2 linked regions of the Homo sapiens genome follow. The protein of the gene in region 2 purifies or fractionates together with the protein of the main gene of each other region. This does not show direct contact. Each region holds a gene or a part of one and is shown on either strand. Other genes may lie near its edges.

What was found. The genes of interacting proteins can lie anywhere in the genome.
Region 1: the proteins of ACAA2 (region 2) and TMLHE purify together in Homo sapiens (affinity purification with mass spectrometry; one large-scale study listed by BioGRID and IntAct). This does not show direct contact.

What each region holds. Positions count from the first base shown.
Region 1 is NC_000023.11:155,504,953-155,508,452, reverse strand, and holds part of TMLHE (trimethyllysine dioxygenase, mitochondrial isoform 1 precursor), read left to right. Parts: intron 1-1,318; coding exon 1,319-1,555; intron 1,556-3,500. UniProt on the Homo sapiens protein: Converts trimethyllysine (TML) into hydroxytrimethyllysine (HTML).
Region 2 is NC_000018.10:49,807,034-49,810,533, reverse strand, and holds part of ACAA2 (3-ketoacyl-CoA thiolase, mitochondrial), read left to right. Parts: intron 1-3,500. UniProt on the Homo sapiens protein: In the production of energy from fats, this is one of the enzymes that catalyzes the last step of the mitochondrial beta-oxidation pathway, an aerobic process breaking down fatty acids into acetyl-CoA.

The DNA of each region.
Region 1 (3,500 bases), on a different chromosome or scaffold from region 2:
CATCTTTAACTGGTAACTAAATAACCCTGACCTAGAAGTTTCACAGAAATTTCAATATGGCCAGGCTTACCTTTCTCTTTTTAATTGTATTTATATTATATTAGATTGTCCTTGATTTTACTCCATATTTTTGTTTATTTCTTATTTTAATTTGCTTTTTACTTTTTCTTAGTTTTGCATATTTGATTAAATTACTATTAATTTTATTTTCCCTCATAAGTTTGAAAATTCTACCTTAGTTTTCCAGTCAATTAATAGTCACCTTACCTTTCCCTGTTAACATATTCAGAAACTGTATATGATTAGCTGTTCTAACATGCCTCTAAACTGAACTCCTTCCTCAACCTCTCATACTTCCTCATTATCATTCAACAGCATATCTGTCTGTAATCTCGGTCTTAGTAAATAGCATTATCATTTTTCAGGTGCCCAAGTGAGAAACCTGGAGTTATTCTAGATTCTTGCCTATCCTTCAGTTATCAAATTCTGCTACTTCTATCTCGGTATCTCTCAGGTGTGTCTTCTTCTCTATAACGCCCCTTTCTGAGTTCAAGCTCTCAATATTTTTCTTTACTATTTCAGTTGTTCAAGTTGGTTTCCAAGTTTTTTGTCACGTTGCTTCTCACCAGTCCATGTTCCACACTATCAACATAATGGACTCTTTAAAATATTGATATGGCCGTAGAGTTTCACAGTTTAAAATCATTTTGTGGTTCTCTGTGCTATGCCAATAGGAACTTCTTACTCCTTGTTGTTTTACATTGGTATCTTTGGTCATGCTTTCTCTCCGCCTAGAATGCCTTCTCCTCATCTCAATCTCCTTCTACTCCAATTCTTGCTCATTCTTTAAGATTAGTCAAAACAATTTTCATTCTTCTCCAAAACATTTCTTTATACAACACCCCGCTAGAACAGATCATTCCTTTGTTTATGACCCCACTATATCTTGTATGCAACTTTATTATAGTACCTATCATATTTTATTTGGTATTTATTTGCTTTAGTTCTTCTTACTAGACTATGAGCTTCTTGAAAATATAGGTTATATATTATTCATGCCTGTATTCCCAGGGCCCAGCACATATAAGCTTCAATATATGTTAGATATGTTTAGAAGAAACCTCTAGTGGCATTAATATTTCAAAACACAAAAAAGTACAACTGCCTATGAGAGAAAAACAATTAAGAAATGAGATTTCCAATTAGGAAATGAAAAGAAAATGACAAGTAGTTTCAGTAATCATTTTATATATAATTTCTAGAATTTTGATATGTTCTCTCTTCCACTGAACAGAAGAATTTTCTTTTCTCTCTTTAGCATTCAAGTGTTTCATTGTCTTAAACATGAAGGAACTGGTGGCAGGACACTGCTAGTAGATGGATTCTATGCAGCAGAACAGGTACTTCAAAAGGCACCTGAGGAATTTGAACTCCTCAGTAAAGTGCCATTGAAGCATGAATATATTGAAGATGTTGGAGAATGTCACAACCACATGATTGGGATTGGGCCAGTCTTAAATATCTACCCATGGAATAAAGAGCTGTATTTGATCAGGTGAGTATCAAAGAACTATCCCCAACTGTAATATATTTGCCAAAGATTAGCCTTCTAATGTAACAAAAATCCCTAAGATTCTTATATCTGCTACATTTTAATCTTGCTATTCTATAGCTTTTTATTATCAAACAGTTTGTATTCTTCTTATAATTCCCATGGAATAGTAAATAGCCACCAACCAAAGAATACTAGGTTTATTTTAGGGGTGGGGTCAAATATTAGAGGTAGTATTTTTTAAATGAAAACATTATTAAATGAAAAAGAGTTATTAAATTATCCTCAGTGACCAAACAGCTAGGTTACCCAACAACATTTATGTATCCAGCCCAGATTTATGCAAAGCTCTTGACCTGTGTATTCAATTGACTACTGATATCACAACTTAGATATTTTGTAGAATATAAAACATATCATATTCAAACGTGAACTCATCACTTCTACTCATTTTAAACCTACTTCTCCACTTGTTTTCCCATTTTCATTGAATGGTACCACCATCCACTAAGTTTCCCAAGCCATAAACCAAACATCATATTTAATTTTTCCCTCTCCCTTATATTACACAACCAGTCTTATCAACTCAATCTCCTATATTTTTCTCAAACTATCCCCTGCTTTCTATCTACAATGCCTCTTCTTGCAGTGAGAACACTTTTCTTTCCCATGGCTAAAGTTGTAACTGATGTCCTTGCTTCCATTGTGAGCCCTCTTCCATTAATTTTTCATGCTGAGTCTTATCTTCTGCTCCCATGTTAAGATCCTTCTAAACCTCCCCAGTGTCTTTCAGAGAAAGACTAGAGTCCTTCCTTATGGCTTTTAAGGTTCTGTATGATCTGATCCCTTCTTACTCTTCTAGCATGTAATTCATGTTTTCCATACATTCTTCCCTAGCTATTCCAAACTGCTTTGGGTTTCTGGAGCCCATTATTTTGCATCTTGCAGCCAAGCTTTTTACTATGCATTTTTGCAGATGGATTACCGCTCCTGCTTCTGCTTATTCCAAGCAAACTGTTACTGTGCATTAATTCAGTTTACTCAGCAAATATTTCATGAGCATCTACCAAGAGTCATGCTCTGTTCTTGACACTGCAGATGAAACTGTAGGCACAATAGACAAAAATTCCTGGCCATCTTGGAATTCTCATTATAGTGACGACAGAGTAATTAAAAATAAATAAGCAAATATATAATATATCAAATTGTGATAAGTACTAGGGAAAAACAAAAAAGCAGGGAAGGAGATATGGGGTGAAGAGGCAGGGTGAAGATAGCTGCAAAACTTGACATACTACAAAGAGTACAGGCTTTGTAATCAGAAGGAGTTCAGTGTGAAATCCTGTCTGCCATTTATTGATTTTTGGCCTTGGACAAGTTACTTAACCTGCTAGTCATGAGTTTCCAGTTACAATAATAATACCTTCTGTGCCCACTTGTTGTGAAGTTAAAAATAAATTGTTATCCTTACCTTTACCCCTGGCTTGTAGGAGGAACTGTGTAAATATTAATTTACTTCCCTTGGATAAGTTCCTCTGGGAAACTCTCCCTCTGTTATCTCTCATATATCTAAGTGCCTAAAACAATGAGTAGTAACTCTATTTTCCCAACATTTTATTATGAACATTTCTAAACATATAGAAAAGTTGAAAACATTTAACACAGAAAAGCCATAGACTTACATCTAGATTCTACCATTAAGATATTTCTATACTTGCTTTATCACCTATCTTCCCATCTATTCATTCATCAGTTAATCTTATTTTCAGTGAATTTTAAAGTATAATACATTGCAGATATCAGTACATATCTCCCTAATACTTCAACATTTATATCATTAAGTAGAGTTCAATATTTGCTTACAGCTTTTTAAAGTTACAATGTATATGCAATGATGTTTAAAATATTAAATATACACTCACTGAGTTTTGACCAATGCATATACCTA
Region 2 (3,500 bases):
TTTCCCATGCACACCCTTTCCTTTGTAGATATTGCATATTTCACTACTAGCACTGCCCTATCAAATGCTTTCTTAGAATATGAGACATAGGGGAGAAGTTCATAAAAGGAACTTTGTAGAGAGACAAATGAAATTAGGCTCTATTGTTTCTGAGAAGTGAGGGGTCATTTCCATGTGTGCAATATGTCATTTTTATTTCTGGATGCTTTATATATTTTTGTTATCTTTGGATTTCAAAAGTTTGACAATGATGTGCCAAGCTGCAGGAGAACGGGGTGTGGAGTGTTACGTGTGGTGTTTATTAGAGTTGAGGTTTACCAAGCTTTAATATACAAATTTATGTTTTTTATCAAATTTGGAAATTTCTTCTTTATTATTTCTGCAAATGTTTTTTTAAATCCATTCTCTGTCCTCTCCTATGACTGTAACTTGTTAGTCCTTGAGGTTCTGCCCGTGTTTTTTTACTATCCGACTTTAAAGAAAAAATTTACAAACTTTGTTTTTGAGCAGATTTAGGTTTTACAAAAAAATTGAGCAGAAAGTACGGAGTATTACCATGTGCTCCCTTGCCCGGTCCGTTTCCCCTATTATTAACATTTTGCATTAGTGTGGTACATTTGTTACAATTGATGAGCTAACATTGATATATTATTATTCACTGAAGTTCATATTTTGCATTCAAGTTCATTCATTGTATTGTATAGTTCTATGGGTTTTGACAAATGTGCAAATGACCGATGTCAGTATTATAGTGTCATGCAGATTAATTTCACCACCCTAAACATCATCTGTGATTCACTTATTTATCCCTGTCTCTGAACCCCTGGCAAGCACTGATCTTTTTACTGTCTCCATAGCTTTGCCTTTTCCAGATATCATGTAGTTGGAATCATACAGTATATGGCCTTTCCAGACTGGCTTCTTTCACTTAGCGACATGCATTTAAGATTCCTTCCTTTTATGGCTTGATAGCTCACTTCTTTTTATTGCTGAATAATATTCCATTGTATGGCTGCACCACAGTTTGTTTATCCATTCACCTGTTGAAGGACATTGTTGTGGGAAGTCAGGGACCCTGAATGGAGGGACCGGCTAGAGCTGTGGCAGAGGAACATAAATTGTGAAGATTTCATGGACATTTATCACTTCCCTAATAATACTCTTAACGCCTGTCTTACTTTAATCTCTTAATCCCGTTATCTTCGTAAGCTGAGGATGTACGTCACCTCAGGTCCACTGTGATGATTGTGTTAACTGTACAAATTGATTGTAAAACGTGTGTTTGAGCAATATGAAATCAGTGCACCTTGAACAGAATAACAGCGATTTTTAGGGAACAAGGGAAGATAACCATAAGGTCTTTACTGCCTGCGGGGTCGGGCAGTAGGAGCCATATTTTTCTTCTTGCAGAGAGCCTATAAACGGATATGCAAGTAGGAGAGATATCACTAAATTCTTTTCCTAGCAAGGAATGTTAAGACCCTAGGAAAAGAATTGTATTCCTGGGGGGAGGTCTATAAATGGCCGCTCTGGGAGTGTCTGTCTTATGCGGTTGAGATAAGGACTGAAATACCCCCTGGTCTCCTGCAGTACCCTCAGGCTTATTAGGGTGGGGAAAAAACGCTTCTTGGTAAATTTGAGGTCAGACCAGTTCTCTGCTATTGAACACTGTTTTCTGTTGTTTAAGATGTTTATCAAGACAATATGTGCACAGCTGAACATAGGCCCTTATCAGGAGTTTTTGATTTTGCCCTTTGCCTTGTGATCTTTGCTTTGTCCTTTGCCTTGTGATCTTTATTGGCCTCAGAAGCATGTGATCTTTGTTCTCCTTTTTGCCCTTTGAAGCATATGATCTTTGTGACCTACTCCCTGTTCGTACACCTGCTCCCCTTTTGAAATCCTTAATAAAAACCTGCTGGTTTTGTGGTTCAGGTGGGCATCCTGGACCTACCGATATGTGATGTCACCCCCGGCGGCCCAGCTGTAAAATTCCTCTCTTTGTACTCTTTCTGTTTCTCAGACCGGCCGACACTTAAGGAAAATAGAACCTACACTGAAATATTGGGGGGCGGGTTCCCATGATAGGACATCGTGGTTGCCTTCAAGTTTTAACAATTAGGAATAAACATTTGTTTGCAGGTTTTTGTTTGAACATAAGTTTTCAAATCATTTAGGTAAATACAAGGAACCTGATTGCTGTATCATACATATGGTTAGGTGTGTTTAGTTTTATAAGAAACTGCCAAAGTGTCTTCCAAGCTGGCCATACCATTTGCATTCCCACCAGCAGTGAATGAATTTCTGTTGTTCCACATCCTCACCAGTGTTTGGTGTTGTCAGTGTTTGGGATTTTAGCCTTTCTAAAATCCAAAAGACTAATAGTTGTGTAGTAGTATCTCATTGTTTTAATTTGCAATTCCCTAATGACATACAATGTTGAGCATCTTTTCATATGCTTATTTGCCATCTGTATATCTTCTTTAGTAAGGTATCTGTTCAGATCTTTTGCCCATTTTTAAATTGGGTTGCATGGGTTTTTTTTTTTTTTTTTAATTGCTGAGCTGTAAGAACACTTTGTATGTTTTGGATACCAGTCCCTTATCAGTTAGGTGTTTTTATAAATATTTTCTCCTAGTCTGTCGCTTGTCTTTTCATTCTCTTAACAGCATCTTTTGCAGAGCAGAGGTTATTTATTCATTTGTTTTTAGAGGGTCCCGCTCTGTCACCCAGGCTGGAGTACAGTGGTGTGAACACGGCCACTGTAGCCTTGACCTCCTGGGCTCTAGCAGTCCCCTTGCCTCAGCCTCCCAAGTGGCTAGGACCACAAGCACACACCACCATGCTTGGCTGATTTCTTAATTTTTTATAGAGACAGGGTCCCATCATGTCTCCCAGGCTGGTCTCAAACTCCTGGGCTCAAGCAGTCCTCCCACCTTGGCCTTCCAAAATGCTGGGATTATAGGCATGAGCCACTGCACACAGCCAGAAGTTTTCTATTTTAATGAAGTCCAACCTAAGTTTTCCCTTCATGGATCCTGCTTTTGGTGTTAGATCTAAAAAATTATCACCAAACCCAAAGCCATGTAGATTTTTCTCGTATGTTCTAAGAGTTTTGCATTTTATATTTAAGTCTATGATCTCTTTGTTTTTGTTTCTGTTTTTTTAGATAAGAGATCTCACTCTGTCACCCAGGCTGGAGTGCAGTGACTTGATTGTAGCCCACGGTAGCCTTGAACTCAGCCTCCTGAATAGCTGGGACTACAGGCACATGCCACTATGCCCAACTAATTTTTTACATTTTTTAGAGATGGGGATCTCGCTATGTTGCCTAGGCTGGTTTCAAACTCCTATCCTGACACAGTCCTCCCACCTCAGCCTCTTGAGTAGCTGAGATTATAGGCTTGAGCCACAGTGCCCAGCCCACTATCAAAGTTGACGCATTTTTGCCTGGATTCATTTTGTTTGGTATATAGATGTTTTGTTGTTCCAGCACTGTTTGT